2 separate regions of the Homo sapiens genome follow, and region 1 is linked to region 2. The links come from fine-mapping of genetic effects on gene expression. A gene starts in region 2. The other region holds a variant in brackets. All regions are shown on one strand. Distances are between the middles of the regions.

Region 1 (9,503 bases), 41 kb after region 2:
GGTTTCACTCTTGTTACCCAGGCTGGAGTGCAATGACACAATCTGGGCTCACTGCAACCTCCGCCTCCTGGGTTCAAGCTGTTCTCCTGCCTCAACCTCCCAAGTAGCTGGGATTACAGGCGCCCACCACCACACTAAGCTAATTTTTGTATTTTTAGTAGAGACGGGGTTTCACCATGTTAGCCAGGCTGGGCTCAAACTCCTGACCTCAAGTGCTCTGCCTGTCTCAGCCTCCCAAAGTGCTGGGATTACAGGCATGAGCCACCCGCCCGGCCATATGGTATTTTTTTTTTCAGTAAGCCCCAGGGAATAGGGGTATAAAAGAGAGAGAAGCCTATTTAAAAGGAGCTAGGTTTTTCCATGCTTTAAAAAAGCTAAATTCTGGCCAGGCACAGTGGCTTACGCCTGTAATCCCAGCACTTTAGGAGGCCAAGGTGGGTGGATCACCTGAGGTTAGGAGTTTGAGAACAGCCTGGTCAACATGGCGAAACTCCGTCTCTACTAAAAATACAAAAATTAGCCAGGCATGGTGGCGCACACCTGTAATCCCAGCTACTCGGGAGGCTGAGACAGGAGAATTGCTTGAATCCAGGAGGCAGAGGTTGCAGCGAGCCGAGATCGTGCCTCTGCACTCCAGCCTGGGTGACAGAGTGAAACTCTCTCTCGCTCTCAAAAAAAAAAAAAAAAAAAAAAAAAAAAAAAAAAAATATATATATATATATATATATATATATAATATATATACTTATATTTTATATAATATATAATATATAAATATTTAATATATATAATTAATATATAAACATATAATTATATATTAATATATAAATATTTAATATACTATATAAATATTTATATAATATATATACACATAAGAAACATATAGAATTCAGCTATATAGCTGAATTCTATATGTTTCTTATGTAGCAGGAATATAATTTCCATGATTTATGAACTTCATTCGTCACTAGTACAATGCACAGAGGTAGATGATTTTGCTTGTCTCTATGCCGTATACCTAAATCAGTAAGCATCTTTAGCCACCATGCTTTGGGAGCAGGGAGACAGATCAATATCCACCCTTCTCAGTCAGGGTTGGCTGGATCCCTGGCTCCTCATCTCTGTCCTGTTTTCCTTCTTCACTTTGCAGATGGTATACTTTTGATTTCCAACAAGGCATTTGTTTTCCACAGGATGGGCCAAAGAGAACCAAAGATTCAGCATTCTCAACTGAACTACAACAAGCTTTGGCAGTGATAGAGGATTTGATCAAGTCCTGTGAGTTGGCTGTGGACCTAGCAGCAGTGACTGAATGTCCGGTATGTTCCATAGTAGTGTTAGAGCATCTCACACAAAAGGCAGGTGCAATACTACACAGTGAGGAAATGCTCTGGCAAAGTCAGAGAGATCGTCTATGGTAAAGGAATTGGACTCTGAGGACAGTCGCCTAAATTGCTCAGTAAACCCGCACTACAAGATTCCAAGCTGTCCCTTGGCATCTTCAGGAATCTTGGATTTATTCCTCAGGGTTCTGAATGTGGGACTGACCCACTGTCTGGACAAACCAGAAAGTCAAGGGCCAGAACATATATGGGCAGAGGAAAAGTCCTGGAGGAGCAATTTATTTTCTAACTCATGGCACTATTAAAATAGTAAAAGATTTGTCTTCTTGTTTCAGAGTTTCTCTAAGAAAAGTATTTTGGAAACAGGTCCTATATTCTTGCCCCAATTTTATATCACAGATCCCAGAAGAGGCCCCAAAAGTATATAGTGTACATGCATTAATCCAAATAGTCTAAAGAAAACCCAAGAGATGCAGTTAGAGGCCAATGCTGGGGAGTTGAGCTCCAGCGTCAGTGTTAATCCGGAGCAGGCTGGTCCCAGGCATTCCAGGCAAAACATCCCCTATAACTGTATGATCTCTTTGAGACTGGAGCATAGTTAATATTCGACTTGTTTTGTTTTTTACTTTGAAGTACTCTAGATTTTTATTCAGATGTGTTTGTTTTATTTCACTGTCATAATAAATTACCATAAGCTTGGTGGCTTAGAGCAGCACAAATTCATTATTATTATTATTTTGAAGTTCCAAGGTCAGAAGTTCAACACAGTCTCATGGGCTAAAATCAAGGTGTTTCCTTTCCTTTTTGGAGTCTAGCATCTGTCTCCTGGAATTTTCCAGCTTAAAAAGGCCACCCACGCTCCATGGCTCATGGCTTCTATGAGCAGAGGTAATAAAGCACAAACCAGCAATGGCAGGTTGGGTTCTTCTTCTTTTTGTTTGTTTGTTTTTGAGACAGAGTCTTGCTCTGTCGCCCAGGCTGGAGTGTAATGGCATGATCTCAGCTCACTGCAACCTCTGCCCGCCAGGTTCAAGCGATTCTCCTGTCCCAGCCTCCTGAGTAGCTGGGACTACAGGCACTTGCCACCACACCTTGCTAATTTTTTTTTTTTTTTGTATTTTTAGTAGAGACGGGGCTTCTCCATGTTGGTCAGGCTGGTCTCGAACTCCTGACCTCGTGATCCACCCATCTCCGCCTCCCAAAGTGCTGGGATTACAGGTGAGAGCCATCGTGCCCGGCCAAGTTTTTCTTACATCACATCTCTGTGACCCCCTCTTCTGCGTTTTTGTCACTTGTGATTATATTATACTTTTTCCTTCTCTTTTTTTTTCTTTTCATTTTTATTTGGTTTTGAACATACCATGTATTGAGGTCTTGGTAGAGGAAATGACTTTTCTTTCCTTGTCATAAATCAAACCATGAAAGTTATTAAGGTCCGAAAAATGAGTTATTTTTACTTCCCACGCTGGTATTTCTTGGGCCTGGATCTCAGAAACTTAGCCCCATGGGGTTTGCTGTGATCCCAGCCATGATGCTGTTACTGTCCCCTGGGACTCCAAGGTGTCTCTGATGACAACTGATGCATGATTCAAGAGGATATGCATAAACTGCAGAGTAGGGTTAGGGTGTGTATAAGGATCATTTTCTTGGTAATAATTCTTCTTTCTTCGCCTGAGGAAAGTCAAGGGAACAATTTGTTAGGTCAATCCAGGGCATCTTTCTGTTCCTTTTTAAATCTTGAATTACGTATTAGACATCCCTATTAAATTTCATTTCCCTGAATCTAATGAATGTCCTGGAAACAATACACAGGGCAGGAAACAGTGTAAATAACATAGGAGGAGGAGGCTGTGAGAAAAGAATGGTTAAAACATGAGCAAATAACATTCTGCCCTAATTTCATTCCCAGCCAGTTTGCATGCAAATAGGATGAACCAGCTTACAGAATTTGGAGATTTTACACGCAAAAAGCAAAGGACCTTTTTTGACCATGTGTCCTCAGAATTGTGCCTCTGCCAGATGCTTTTTGGTACCTTTTCTACTAAGACTTAACTTACTTTTACATCTAATACATCAGCTAATTTCTCCTGACAGTTTTGTATAATCCTGTTGAATTATGGAGGAGTAGATATTGGAATTTTCAACCTTCTGATTCAAAAGAAGATCCATGGAAAGAAGAGTTAACTCACTCAAGATTACATGGCTGTCACCTTGGACTATTTCTTGTTCATTCCCTATCAGGGTGCTATTCCACTCTTTATCTGTTTCTGATTAGAATTGACTGACAACTGCCTCTAACTCAGCTCAAATGATTCTGAGATTCTTTGTCTCCATTTTGTAGAGTTTTATTACAGGTGTTTATGATCACCTGTAATAAATTACAGCTATATGCATGGCTGAGTCCAGTTTAACCTCTTAGTTTCTCTGCTTGAAATTTAATATTAACCTGGTTTTATAAAGGAAAGAAATTGAATGTGATAATTAAATTATCACAATTAAACAACTAGAAAGCAACTAGAAAAAAATCCCTTCTGATATTTATATTTTCTTGTTTTTCTGTGTACTCAATTAGTCCTGGGTCTAATTTAATCACAGAAGTTTAAAATTCTTTTCCAAACAAGTTTGTTTTGTGGAACACTGAGTTATAATTTACTTCTATCTATTTGCAAAAAAAAAACAAAAGTTTTTTTTTTTTTCAAATCCAATGCATATTAGAGATGCATTTAAATTCTGACTTGCCAGGGATAAGTTCCAAAGTTGACTTGTAAAGATTGAATGAAACAGTCTTCCTTTTTGGAACAAATTTATATAAACCACTAAAGGATGTACTTGTATTGTAAGTTCATTGTGAGCTAGGGCCAGGATTTTATTTCTATTTCAGTTTCCTCTTTCCTTACCACAGTGTTAGCTGCAGAGATAGGGCTAAGTAAATAATCCTAGTGACCCAGGCAAAGTATCTTCTTCATTCCCCACCCCCCCACCCCCCCCACCCCCCCACAATACCTATATTACAGGCGGTTGCCGGGAGTAAGTGAGAATTAAATGATGGGTAAGGCACCAAGCACTGTGCCTGGCGCCCAACAGATGCCGAATAAACAGCCCTAGTGGTACGTTATATGGGGACCTGCTCAAGCTGGAAAGGAAGATACCTCTTTGCCCCTGACTATTGTAATCACAGGCTCCCACAGCTTCTGCTTTTCATTTCTGGACTCAGGCTCTGTGTGGACGCATTTATACAGATGTTTCCTGCTTCTTTGTGC[AG/G]TAAGTTTGTGACAGTCATATTAACTCTTACTACCTGGAATGGAAACACGGGCACCCAAAAGAAGCTCTTGCTGAGGCCAGCTTCCCTAGATTCACTCTCTCAGCCAGACTCTTCATTTGGCCAATGTAGTCACATTTGAAATCCTTGTATCGGGGCTCTTACCTGCAGAATGCCCAGGTGTGAAAGTGGTAGCATTTACTAATTGATTTTGCTATCACTTCTTGTACAGAGGAGGCCATCTAACTTATCGCTCGCTCATTTGAGGTAGCCGCTATGTTCCATCTCTGAGTTCACAACCATCAGGTTCTTCCACACACCGTGTGACATGGCCACACTTCTTTGTTACTGGTGGAAAACAGTTGGAAGTATATTCGTTTCCTAGGGCTGATGTCGCAAGGAACCACAAAGTACGTGACTTAAAACAACAGAAATTTATTCCCTCACAGTTTTGACGGCTAGACGTCCAAAGGCAAGGTGAGAGCAGGCCCACGTTCCCTCTGAGGGCTCTCAGGAAGAATCCTTCCTTACCTCGTCTGAGCTTCTGGTGACTGCCGGCAATTCTTGGAGTTCCTTGGCTGACAGCTGTGCCACTCCAATTTCTGCCTCTGCCTTTGCATGGCTGTTCCCTCAGCGTGCGTCTCCATTTCTTTGTTTTCTTTTTTTATAAGGATACCAGTCATTGGATTTGGACCCATCCTAACCCAGGGCAACCCCATCTTAACCAATTGTATCTGCAAAGACCCTCTTTCCGAATAAGATCATATTTTGAGGGTCTCATAGACATGAGTTTTTGGGGGAACACTATTCAACCCAGTACAGGGGCGTCGCTGAATGAACTCCTTGGATAAATCAATATTCCCTCACAGTGATGAGTATTTTGTTTCCTGTCCCCTACTCCCAAGCACCACTAAATGCCAATAAATAAATAAATACTAGGGAATGCCAATAAATAAATAAATACTGGTGAACACGTATCTGAAAGAGGTTGTGCAACGTGGTCTCCGACCTTGAGATCAACTACAGTCTAGTTGGAAAGAAAAGGTACACGTGACGGAAAAGGTCATTCTTGCTCCTGCTCAGGGAATGTCCCTGCAGCTTCCTGTTGGAGGCGGAGCAGCTCCACACAGCACAGTGAACAGTGTGTGTGCCTGCCCTTGGTCAGCACCGTGTAGGGCATGTGCTCACCCGCTGGAGATCGGACCTTGGGCGTGGAGATGGGCAATACCGTCATATGTGTGGTCCTGAGAACATTTGTGCAACATGACCCAGAGGATATGTGCCCATATGTTTCTGCCAGACTTGAAAGACCCAGCGACTCCCCCCGAGTCACTTCCAGTAATAATGGGCTTACTGGAAAGCTGACCTGCAGCTTCTCAAGAAGTCACGATGGCAAAGCCAAGTTCGCGGAGATGGGAACTGAGCAAACCCAGGATCCACAGCACCTCTGGGGCCTGGGCCTGGGGAGGGAGCCGGGGTTCTTACCTGTGTGACCCGCCTGTATATGTCAAGTGCACCCACATGCCTGCTCGCCCCCCCTCTTACCACCTACTGACTGTTTTTTTCCCTTCCGTCAGTTTCTTCCTCTTCCTCATAATTTCTAATGACTCACCTTCTTCATAGTTCTGTTTCCTTCTCGTTTATTCCACTGCCTGCTTTCCCCTAAAGCATCTCACAGCCCCGTCTCCTGCTGGTCACCACTTCCTCCTGTTTTCTTCAGTTCAGGGAGAGATCACATTGCCAACCCCCAACCCTGGCACATTGTTTTTATGCTGGGGGCCCTATGGTCAGCTGCTGGTACCTCTCTGGATTCACATCCTCTGATTACTTGCCTATGAAGGTGCAGCAGCATGGCTGTGGATGGGGTGATGAGGAAAGTTCAGAGGTAATAAAGCACAAACCTTGCTGCCTGAGGCTGCCTCTTCAGCATTTCTGGTTGGGGCTGTTTCCTCTACAATAGCCTTGTGGATGCCTTAACTCACGTCACCCCATCTTCACAAGTCATTAGAGAGTGTACACCTCGACTTATTCCCCCTTCCCCTATCATCCTAGCCTCTTCTAGAATTACTTTGACAGCTGAGCCTCCACACTGACCAAATGTGTTCTTACAAGCAGCTTTACCTAAAACATGTTCCTCTTTCTATCATAGGGCGTGGTTGAGGATGTTGCTCAGTGACAACATATCACTGGGAGAAATGTTTCTTATGTCTTAGTAGGAATAGCTGTGCTTTTCCTGAACAACCGGTTTGTGTATGTCTTCAGACATAATAAATCGTACCACTCACCATGTTTCCCTCTGTATTGCTATTAGAAAGTCAGAGCCAAGTTTACATCAAGTTTAAATGGCTTTATTATATGCATTTTACATATAACCTCTTCATCTTTTCTTTTATCTTCTACACCTTCTGGAACAGTTCATCTGATTTATTGTCTTTATATTTAGGGATGGTGATCTCCCTATGTTGCCCAGGCTGGCCTCAAACTCCTGGACTCAAGTGATCCTCCTGCCTCAGCCTCCCAAGTAGTTGCGACTACAGGCAGGCGCCAAGCTCCCAACTTCTTTATTTTTTCTTCACCTTAATTCCCTCGGTTATTTTCTATCTGTCTATACTGTATATATTTCTGTAAGATGCGTCGAATGTTTAAAATGAGGTAGAGAGTGAATACATTGTAAGATAGAAACTACAAGTTTGAATATCCCTTAGCCAAAATGCTTGAGGCCAAAAGTGTTTTGGAGTTTTTTTTTTTTTAGGGGAGGATTGGAGTATTTGCATACGTACTGAGTTATGTTGCAGATGGAACCCAAGTGTAAACACGAAATTCATTTATGTTTCATGACACCTTATACACATAGACTGAAGGTAATTTTACATATTTTAAATAATTTAGTGCATGAAGGCCGGGAGCAGTGGCTTATGCCTGTAATCCCAGCACTTTGGGAGGCTGAGGTGGGCAGATCACCAGAGGTCAGGAGTTCGAGACCAGCCTGGCCAACATGCTGAAACCCTGGCTCTACTAAAAATACAAAAATTAGCCGGGCATGGTAATGCACGCCTGTAATCCAAGCTACTCGGGAGGATGAGGCAGGAGAGTCCCTTGAACTCAGGAGACAGAGGTTGCGGTGAGCCAAGGTCGTGCCACTCTACTGCAGCCTTGGCAACAGAGTAAGACTCCGTCTCAAAAAAATAAAAAATAAAAAATAATTTTGTGCGTGAAGCAAAATTTTGACTGTGTTTTGACTGCCACCCATCACATGTGGTCAGGTATGGAATTTTTCACCTCCAGTGTCATACTGGTTCTCAGAAAGTTCCAGATTTTGGAGGATTTCAGATTTTTTAAATTATGGATGCTCAACCTGTGCTGATAACATTTGTTTATGTGGCAAATATTAAGTATCTACTTCTACCAGTTGCCTTTACTAAAACATATTTCCTGCACTATTTATGTCGATATTGATTATGAATTGAATGGATTTAAAGGAAAAAGCAGTCACTAAGGTCTGTAGTGATTACATTTGAGTGGGTCCTTGATGGATGCAGATAGAGTGAAAAAATTCTCCAGGGTCCTCATGGACCTATCCACCCTTCTGTTTTGGAATGTGGTGAACTGTTAACACAGAACAGGAGCATTGGCTTTTAGGAAAGAAGGCCTCGTGGCTGGGAGTTTGAGGGTTTTATTCACCACAGTCTACATATGTAAATTTTCCAAAGAAGAAAATAGAAAATTAACATAGGAAATAACGCCATAGACACCATAGAAATGACTAGAGTTTATTGCTCTTGAAGTTTTTCTTTTAATGTTTCAGAAGTAAAGTCAATTCCTTTTTAAAAAAGATACCTAGAGTTTGCCCAACATATAAACAATAAATTATAAAAATGCCCAATCAATTATGAATGAAGTACATATTTCCAGTATTAACTCAGAAATCATAGGGATTGATCTCAGCTAGAGGTCACTTAGGGAGATTTCTTTGTCTTGGTCCCCTTCAAATAATTTGTTCCTTTTGGTGTTTTTATTCAGGGAAATGAATTCTTATCTGCTTTAAGCAATCGAAGTTTTGAAAAATACCAGATAAAATGCCTCGCTCCCAGCTCATCTTGGTCCACTGTCTTTTGAAGAGAGCTCAGAGAAGGCAGGGTCATCTCATTTGGACTTTCAACCAGACATATGACAAAGGCAGCCTTGCTGGTGGAGACAGGGGCATCACAGTTTATGCCTAGAGTCAAACAGACTTCTTAAAAATCTGTCATTTGGTATTATCTTGGCACTGTTGACTCACTCTGAAAAACTCAGAGTTGAATGCAGTTACTATTTCCATTACAATGTTGTGAAGATTAGATCACAGTAAACTTTCTCTTTTCAGAACAAGCTTCATTTTCTCAGGTCCTCATATACCTGAAGCAGAAGTTAGGATGCAGATGGAACACACAGATGCTCATGGGTCCGCAATGCAGCCAAAATTCTATCTCTACTGGACATAATTGAAATGTTAATTTCTTGTCCCTTTGAAGGAGACTGTCATGTATCAAACATAGCACAGAGGAAATTGAATTCTGCTAGTTAAAATTGAGTCAAAAATATCACAGTCCCCGTATCTCTAGCTCAAGCATTTCTAACATTCTTTATGTATAGCATTACCTTTCATAGCTGAATTGATTTCCTTATATAACTAAATGGCACCACGCTCAGTGAAGCTCAAAAAATTGTCGTTTTGATTTAGTGACAGACCAGCCTGAATAGCACTTTTAGAATTGTAAACCTCAAAGAAGCATGCTTTATAAAATTTGAAAACAGGCCACAAAGGCTTCTTTCTCTGTCAAGTAATTTTACAGCTTCTTTTCCTGTATGTGTGTTTCCAAAAGGACGATATTGGAAAACTAGGCAAGCTGTTGCTGCACGGC
Region 2 (9,503 bases):
GAGAAGATGGAAACTGGGGAAGGCTTTGTGGGAGAGGTGGCAAATGAGCAGGAGCTAGAACAGAATTCAAATGTGGGTTTGGGGAGGAAAGGAGGAAGACACAGCTCAGAAAGAGAAGTCTACAGCCATACCCCGCTGAATGCACCTGATCCTGGCTGATCTCAGAAGCTAAGCAGGGTTGGGCCTGGTTAGTACTTGGATGGGAGAAAGAAAAGGAGAAGGGAGGAGTAGGGCAAGGAGCATTTCAACTGGCTTAAAGGGTGAAGTGGGCCGGGTGCGGTGGCTCATGCCTGTAATCCCAGCACTTTGGGAGGCCGAGGCGGGCGGATCAGGAGGTCGGGAGATCAAGACCATCCTGGCTAACATGGTGAAACCCCATCTCTACTAAAAACACAAAAATTAGCTGGGTGTGGTGGAGCATGCCTGTAATCCCAGCTACTCGGGAGGCTGAAGCAGGAGAATCGCTTGAACCCAGGAGGCGGAGGTTGCGGTGAGCCGAGATGGCACCATTGCACTCCAGCCTGGGCAACAGAGCGAGACTCCGTCTCAAAAAAAAAAAAAAAAAAAAAAAAAAAGGGTGAAGTGGAGGGAGCAAGGAATAAGACATTCCAAGAGAGACTACGCAGGAATTTTTTTTAAGCACATAAGAGAAAAAGTTGTGGCTTGAGTGGGGAAATGTCAAATCACTTAGTTTGGCTAGAAGTTAGGGTAAAGGGAAAAAACGGAAAAAAGGAGATCAGAAAGTTTAGCTGTGGTTGAATAATAATAAGAAAAACCAGGATTCAGAAACAGGATGACGATATAACCCAGTGTCTGCCTGTTGCCCAGTGGCAGTTCCTACGTCCCATTCTGGACATTGTCTTTAGAAGCAACACTTGATAGAGGGTTTATAACACAGAGGTACAAAAAGTAGAAGATGGTGTAAAACAAGAGGTATATGTAACATGTTTCTGTCTTGGTGGATCAACATTTAGTCTAAGTTAACTACCATTTATTAAGTGCCTGCCCTATTCTAGGCATTACAGCGGGCAGCCCTGAAAGTAGGTTAATACGTATATTTAACTAATTCAACAAACATTAACTTATCACATACTGTGTAGTAGGCCATGGGCAGGATAGGATGCTAAAAAGACTTCAGAGATGTTTCAGGTGTAGCTCTTCTATCAAAGGGTCAATAAATATTCCAGTGCAAGCTGGAATCTGGACCTGATGGTGGTGAAAGAGAGTAAAAAAGCCGAGAGTGTTTAAATGCCAACAAAAGTAGATGTATACTGTGCCTCTCCATTTACTAGTCACATGAGCTCGACTTGTCTCTAAACCATGTACCAGTGTTTTCTCAGGATCATTTGAGATAACTTGTTGACAATGTCAGTCCAGATTAGATGTTCCATCTGTGCAAATTTCCTTTCTCTAGAATCTGTTTGTGTAGCTTTACCAGGATGGGTTAGTTAATGGATGGCTGATTTTTTTTTCAGGTTTTTTTCTTTTTAGAATACTGAGCTATACTCATAATATGCTTCTTCTCAAAAAACATTAATTAGGTAGGAGTTTTTAAAAATACTGATCTGATGGCTAAGGGCCATTTAACACATCGCAAATACTGTTGAGGCAGAAGTATCATCCCTAATTGACTGAATATGGTCCTTCTCATGTTCCCCATTATTCCATTAATGGAATAACGGTCTTCCGTTATTCTTGTTCCCACAAGCACTTAAAATACATTTCAATTAGGATGACACAGGTATAAGATTATATGGTCCTCTAAAGTAAGAGAAGGAAACTTGAGGTGAGTCCATCCTTGAACTTACTTTGCTTAGAGCACTATGAAAAAGTTATAGGAAGTTATAGGAAAGGAGCAAAAGAGTCAAATCTGAAATATTAGGTGGATCTTAGGCTGTAGAACAGTATTTTGAACTTGAACTTTTGGGCTTTGTTGCCTACACACTTGGTAGAACATTCTCTTTTGTAGAGAACTGGCTTCTAGTGTTAAAGCCTTCTATGGAAGAGAAATCTGAATAAGTTACATATCAAAGCCAGCAACTGAATTTGTAGAATTAAAATGTTTCTAAAAAATCGCTTTTTTATTCAAATCTTGTATCTCACCTGATCAAGTTTCTTATCCTTTAAATATAAAGATTCTTACATCCCCTATATATATGTAAACTAATACATAATAATTAGATATTGCATACCGTAAGGAAAGTAATTCTAGATTTACACTGTTCTGGTTACATCTTCGCTCACAGAGATTCGATATCAAAGGGCAGAGCTCTTGTAATTTACTGTGCCTCAGTTTCTGGAACACAGATACAATGAATTCCTCTCCTTACAAGGTTATTCTAACAATGCATTAAAATAATGGCTATGGAAATATTTCAGAAAAGGCATAATGTATTATAAAAATTCAAAGCTGAGATCTATTTACTTCAGCATATATAAAATTCCCCCTGAATAGGGGACATTTTGTTACTCTGAGAAGAGACAATTTCCCTCTGAATTTCTCCCAGTTTCTTCCTGATACCTCCTGTGTTCTGAAATGCAGATTCTAGTGCAATTGGGCCTCAGAAAGAACTGGACCCTTTACAATGTGAAAGTCACCAAGTGCAATGATTCTAGCCAAAGTGACCCATTTTAAAAGATGACCCATTTCAAAACCCATGAGTTATTATTCAAGCTGTTCTATTTTTGAGAATTAGAAAGTTTTCTTTTTCTTTTTTTTTTTTTTTACAATCTCACCATTTGAATGTCTTTTATGAAAAGAGAAAACTGATCACCATTTTAATGAAATACAATGTTTCATTTTTTACTTGATGGGGCCTGCACTTTATTTTGAAAACTCTTCTGCACCTTCTGAGTTTTCTCTGGGCAGAGCAGTTATAAGCATCTCTACCTCCTACTCATCCTCATCTCCCACTTTCTCAGGAACAGCTGCTCTGAGCTTTGGCTTGGGCCTTTCCTGTGATAACACTGGTTCTACCTTAGAGCCTTGCAGGGCCGGGAAGGGTCAGCCTGAGTCAGCCTCCTCCTCAGAGTGCTCAGTCAATGCTCAGAGCGTGTGCGGGAGGATAAGGAAGAGTGAGAAGGACAAGCAGGTTAAGTACAGAATGGAAACCTTTCTGGTATTGCGTTTAGCTTGCTTTAAAAGCAAAGAGTTGGCCCCAAAAAGCAGCTTTCACCTCCTCACTTGTGACCAGATAGAAAATCTACCATAAATTTATTTTGAGAAAGTTATAACGTCTGCTGCTGATCACTAATCACCCTTTCAGAAAGTTCAGGGTGGAATCATTTCGGTGCCACCACTTAATACAACTACCTTCAATCATCCTTTTCTGGGTCAACTTCGGCTTTTCACATTCCTCTCCCATCCCCCACAGGGAACAGGCAAGGTTTCCCAAAATAAAGGCACAGACGCACAAATCCAATTCTGATGGATGTACTTTCATCAGATAATTACCATAAATATGAGCCTCAGGCCACCATCGGCCACTGTGCGGTTACCACATCGGTGTACCTTTAACATGATCCATAACCTAAGAAAACCAACACCGGCCAAGAATGTACAGGGTGTAGTCAAGAGTCGAGTTGAAAACTGTTACTTTTACCTATATGGTATCCAAGCAAGCAATTGCCTCTGTCACATCAGGATTCAAAATGAAATGAGGCAGAGTCAAAGGAAAGAGTGGCCACGACCTCCCCGCCAGGGAGATCTGCGGCTGCAGTCTCCCCGCCTGCCCACTTCCCTGTCCCCATTTCCCCCGCCAGTAACTCGCCGAAAGCGTTCTCAGGTTGGCGGTTTCTTCTTTCCAGCCCGACACGGGCTTTCGACTCGAATTCAGCCCTCCAGCCGGAGGCGGGTGGCCGCAAGCCTGGGGCCCCCGGCCGGCAACCGAATTGGTGGGCGCGGCGTTCGCCTCGCGGCTCCCGCGCACGGGCCTGTCCCGCCACCGAGGAGCCGGAGCTCCTCAGGGACGGGGACCCGCAGGCCCCGGGAAGCCGCCCCAACCGGAGCTGCCCGGCCCCCGAGCCTACCTGCCGCACCTGGGCGGCGGCCCGGCCTGGGTCCCAGCCGCTGGCCACCCGCGCGGGCAGGCCGGAGGGAACAAAGGCGTTCCGGGGAGGGGACGAGCCTCCTTCTCCGCCGCGCTTTCAGAGGGCGGGCTGCCGGGGCCCGCGGTGGGAGAGGCCTCCCCGGCTTCCCGACTTCCCGGCGCTGGGCCGTGCGCGGTCCGGGCCAGGGCGGCGGGCCCCGATCCGGTGTCCACGCCAGCCACGCGCCCCCGGCCCAAGCGCGCGTTCCCACCTGAAGTCCTGGCGCCACCCGCCGGGCGAGGGCCGGCGTGCCCTCACCTCCTCGCCACTCTTCTCCTCCAGAGACCTCGCTCGGCCCGGAGTGGGCAGACTCGGAGCCTCCCGCGCCGGAGACCGCGAGCCGCTCGGCCGAGGAGGCGCGGCGGGGCGGGGGCGGGGCGGAGGGGCCGGCCCGCAGCCCCCAATGCCGGGAGCCCGCGCTGGAGACCCAGGGAGCCCAGCTCGGGGCCGCGGCACGGAGAACGAACCATCCGTGGCCTGGAGACGTATCCCGCCGAGCGGCCAGAACTTTCCCCATTTAGCGATCCGGAAAGGAAGCCAACACTCCCACCCAGAGAGGCCTCGGCCGCGGAAAGATGCGGCCGCGGCACAGCCGTGTTTTCACCACGTAACTGACCACAGACTAACTCCGCGCGGAACCACCGGCCCAGGGCGCTCCGCCAAGAGGCGGACTGTGCTGGCCTCGCGGGCCCTACGCCCAGGGAACGCCGCGGTTCCTCCCACACGGGACACCGGTTCCGCAGCGCCGCGGATTAGGATGGTCTTTTACTTTCCGAGCGGGAGCTCTAACGCAGGCTCAGGCGGGTCTTGTTAAAAGGTTTCTGGTCACACCACTTATGCGTGGAGCTCTGGGGGCCTCAGTAACAAAGTAAGGAAACTTACAGCAAACTAGGGCTGCACTGCCGCTGTCCGTTTCTAAAATACGAGAAGAGGGGGAAACCCCGCCCCAGGCCAGCTTCCCAGTGACTTTACCTCCAAGTCCAGCTTCATTTCAAGGGCAGTTTAGAGCGAAACTCACGAAGTTCAAGCCCAGCTCTTTAAATGTCCAAATCGGAGGTCGGCTTTCCTTCCCGCATCGGAGCTAAAGTCGCTGGTCTCAAGAACAAAACTTGCGGGCTTTAAATCTTGGGCGAGGACTGGACGGGCAGCGCTGGACTGGGCTCGCTTCCCCGGCGGGATGCGGGCTGTATGCGGGCGGGATGGGGGCGGGCCCGGGCGGGGGCGCGAGGCTCCCAGCCGCGCGCCCCGCACTCTCGGCGTCACGGCCCGAGCCCGGCCCCGCCCGCCAGCCGCCACCCTCCCGGCGCGTAGGTGAAGGTGATGGGCCCCGCCCCAGTTTGTTCTTGTCTGTAGATGAGAATTCCAGGAAGTGTTTCCCTGCCGCTCGTCAGTTAATTGCGATCACTTACTCAAATGGCCAACTGGAAGCCAGAGTGCACATGAATGTCCTCTTTGAGCTATTTTCCTCCTTTAGAATACTTCATGCAGGTAACCAGACAATATCGAGAGATGCGGACTTCTACTCAACGAGAGAGATTATAAATGAATCCTGGATGCGCTTGATTTCTTGTTTCCCGCATGTTGTTAGACCTCTCCCTAAAGCCACAAAACATTTAACGGAGATAATATTTTGAGCGATTCTGTTATTGTACATATTTCAGAACATGACAGAAAAGCAAAAGATTAACCCAAATACTTTAGTAAAATAAAAGCTTTGAGTTTGTCGTAAAAGGAACAAGACAGGTAATGAGTTAAATGTATGATTGTCGAATCAGGGTTTAAAACAGTGGGGCCAGCAGACACGGTGGCTCACACCTGTAATCCCATCACTTTGGGAGGCTGAGCCGCAGGAGGATTGCTTGATCCCAGGAGTTAGAGACCAGCGTGGCCAACATAGCAAGACCCCATCTCTAAAAGAAAAAACACACACACAAAATGAAAACTGTTGTTCATTCAAACTAGATTTTTAGGAAGTTTTTAAATTGCTTTCCTTAAGCTGGTCAGCATCTTTTAAATCATGCAGTTCTTTTCATATGCTGCCTACACAGGGCATGGCTCAGCATCTCCCAGACTGTGGCACTGCATGTTCATCAGACCACAGACAGAAATATTTACATGTGTGATTTGCAAAGGAGTCATTGACAGTGACCCACAAATAAGCTGATTCATTGTTAATACAGCACTAATGACATACCTTCTCTAATAAAATGCTGACTGAAATCCCACATGCATTTCCCCCAGCCATCACATGTGTATGTTGTATATCTGTGCAAATATTCAATTACAATTATATTCCTTTCAGATCATTTGGAGCTAGGTCCATGTGTCAGTATACATATGTTCCACATACATGAGCACATAGAACTGTACCCACGAGAAATACAAACTGACCAAAACAGTGGTAGACACACATACAAATCACATATTCACATCATACTAGATACAGATAAACACACCAGATAGATAAATGGTTTCAAAAGTATGTCTGGAGATTGGAAATACGATGCAAGTTTTTTGGTGGTAGGAGGGAGAGATGAGAGGGTGTGAAGGAGAGATAGGCAAGGTCAAGTAGTCCAGAATGCCCACTCTGGGATCCACACAAGCTCAGATCACACATGCGAGAGGACAGGCAAGTCCCCTTTGCTTGTTAGGGAAGATTTCCTAGAGCAGCCTGGCTTCCTGTCCCACCCAGAGAGAGGGGAAGAGAATGACAGATTTGATGGTATTGATGGTGCTATGCTCAGTTACTTTTATCAAGAGGGAGTGCATGAAGATATTGAGATGTGTTAGAAATAAACTTAGGTAATAATAATGATGCTGACTTGGCCAGCATGAAGAAGGAGGACCGTGTTGGCATGCTTTCCTTATCCAAGTAGCAGCTGGTAAGCAGAGAGCCCTGTGATTAGATCTATACATGACTTTGGAATGACCAAAATCTGCATGTTAGACTCGGCAGGGATAGATAAGGCACAGAAAGAGCAGAGGAGTAGCAGATTTAGGAGAGATGATCAGAGAGTAAGGCACATGCATCATTAGTAGTGGGGAGGGGAGACTAAACCCTGAGTACAAGAGAACCTGGGAGATGGTGGGAGCAACAGGGGCCCAAGGAAGAGGCCTGTGTTACTAAAATCATGAAAGGAGAAGCAGGTCTGATAACCGAGTGGCTTAACACAGCTGAAGTGTAGCAGCAGTATCAGGCTTGACCTGTTTAGCGAAATTTGTCTTTCTGGATTCTGTTAGACCAGATTTCCTCACAGGCCCTATAGGGAACCTGTCCAGTGAATCTGTGAATTCAAACACATCACGGGCCATGTATTCTGAAGCAGGCCGGTGTTCATTCAAGGCCTGGGCTGTTAGAGAGACTCTGGTTGTTTCCTGACCTGGCTTCCTACACAGGATCTCTGGCAAGTTAGCAAACTTCTCTGTGCCCACAGTAATACCTGCCTGCAAGGGTGGGTGAGGATTAGTGCAATCGCAGTGACGGGTGGAGTGCTGAGCTCAGAGCCTGGGCTATCCCAATGGGCGGATGAATGGTCAGCATCCTTGAGCCCATCACAGGTTGCAGAAAGCTCCTCTCACCTGGCAGAGGTAGGCTCATGCTGTGTCCTGTCATCGTGCTGTAAAGGATCTGCTGTGTTTCACACCTCTGGGAATTTCACATCTGTTGATACAGCATCACCATTCAGACGATGCCCTATCTCCTTGGCTCCGCCGCCTCTTTCTCTGCCCCCCGGCCACCTCCCACCACACGCAGCCTTCCTTGGTGTTCTCTTCTCCGCACACATGCTCCTTGCTGATCTCACCCATTGTCTTTAATCTTGACTTACATTTCTTTCTTTTTTTTTTTTTTCTTTTTTTGAAACGAAGTATCGCTCTGTCACCCAGGCTGGAGTGCAGTGGCACGATCTCCTTTCACTGTAACCTCTGCCTCCCGGGTTCAAGTGACTCTCCTGCCTCAGCCTCCCGAGTAGCTGGGATTACAGTCATGCACCACCACACCTGGCTAATTTTTTATATTTTTGGTGGAGATGGGGTTTCACCATGTTGGCCAGGCAGGTCTTGAACTCCTGACTTCAAGTGATCCGCCCGCCTCGGCCTCCCAAAGTGCTGGGACTACAGGCGTGAACCACCGCTCCCAGCCCATCCTGATTTATATTTCTAGCCCAGATTCTCAGCTTCAACCTTAAGTGTCTTTGGGTATGTCACATCAATCTTCAGCTTAATATGTCTAAAATGGGATGTATAAATATGGGATTGGGAAATGGTTAATGGACAGGACTTGAATGCCCCAAAAGCAAGAATCCTCCTTTTTCTCACCAGTGACCCAGCCCAGGCTGTTATGTGTCAGTAACAGTCAGTAGTATTTTGTCACTGTATAAGTTATATGTCTTTTGCCTCAACTAGCTGTGGGGAGGGGAAAAAAGTTGTATGTCTGTTTTCCCAACTACTTTGAAAGTCTTCAGATCTCTTGTGGGTGGACACCATGCCCTGCTCTTCTCTGAGTCTCTCAGAGACTCCCCGTCTCCTTGCCACCCTCACAATAATGCCTGTCACAGAATGAATGCCTGGTAACTGCAGGTTGAATTGAATTTTTGCATAGCACTTCCACACTCATCAATTATTCAAACTTTTGTTCCAAGAATCCCATCCGTAGTACAGTGGCCCTGTGTACGTCTCCTTTGATGCCACCAAGGCCCAAAAGCTGACGCTGGAGACACACTAGCTCTTTGCTGCAGCTCCTGCTACTGCTTCTATGGCCTGGCACCCTTCAGCATCCTCCCTCAATTCCAGGGCCTCAGCAGTTTGATGAAACCACACTAGGTACACCCAGAACTGGAAGGTGAAGGGAACTGACAGCACAAGGCGGCACTCACCCGCAGGCCACTCTGAGAACCCGGTTTCTTCCATTTTCTTCTCTTCTGCATGGGGGAGGGGCCTCCTGGAACTGATCATCTCCTTCACACCAACGCATAAGGAAATCTCTTATGTGCCATCTGACACTCAGTGGGGCCTCTCAGGGACAGGGACAGGGACAGTTTCGGAGGGGCAGGCCCTGCTGGCTGGGACCCTCCCTGGTCCAGTAGAGCTGTGCTGTCAACCCTCCAACAGCCCCTGTGAAAATGGCCTGATACCAGCCCCTGGCAGTGAGTGTCTCAGCATTTCTTCTCCTTTTCCCAGCAGCAGATCAGACACACACTCCACACTCCCGGAAGCATACAGGGTTCTGTGCAGGTCCCAGAGGGCTGCCTCTAACTCAGCTCTTTCTCTCCTACTCAGGAGGGCACATGCAAATTGAGTGAGGGAGTGACATTTTTGTAGGAACAATCTTGAGTGCTGATTAACACATATTTTAAAAGACAATTGGCACTTAGTTTAGTCACAGCTATCTAAACTAAGCAAAACAATTTGTGTCC

The links. PIP is the estimated chance that this variant, and not a neighbour inherited with it, causes the effect.
Region 1: its variant is fine-mapped to the expression of B3GNT5 in blood mononuclear cells (TOPMed, PIP above 0.99). The same link has a PIP of 0.9 or more in monocytes, spinal cord, tibial artery and tibial nerve.

Annotation. Positions count from the first base shown.
Region 1 is chr3:183,207,785-183,217,287 of GRCh38, reverse strand. MCF2L2 (MCF.2 cell line derived transforming sequence-like 2) reads left to right here. Exons shown (of 30, transcript NM_015078.4): 22 at 1,194-1,319; 23 at 9,465-9,503. Among named protein-coding and RNA genes, the nearest start is that of B3GNT5, 41 kb to the left of the region's middle. The variant AG/G (reference allele first, on the strand shown) is at 4,604.
Region 2 is chr3:183,249,031-183,258,533 of GRCh38, reverse strand. It overlaps B3GNT5 (UDP-GlcNAc:betaGal beta-1,3-N-acetylglucosaminyltransferase 5), which reads right to left and starts at 5,281. Exons shown (of 2, transcript NM_032047.5): 1 at 5,062-5,281. All of the region lies in intron 15 of MCF2L2 (MCF.2 cell line derived transforming sequence-like 2), which reads left to right. It overlaps LOC124906310 (a long non-coding RNA gene), which reads right to left and starts at 9,317. Exons shown (of 3, transcript XR_007096189.1): 1 at 8,964-9,317; 2 at 7,669-7,750; 3 at 5,979-5,999. It also overlaps the pseudogene RNA5SP151.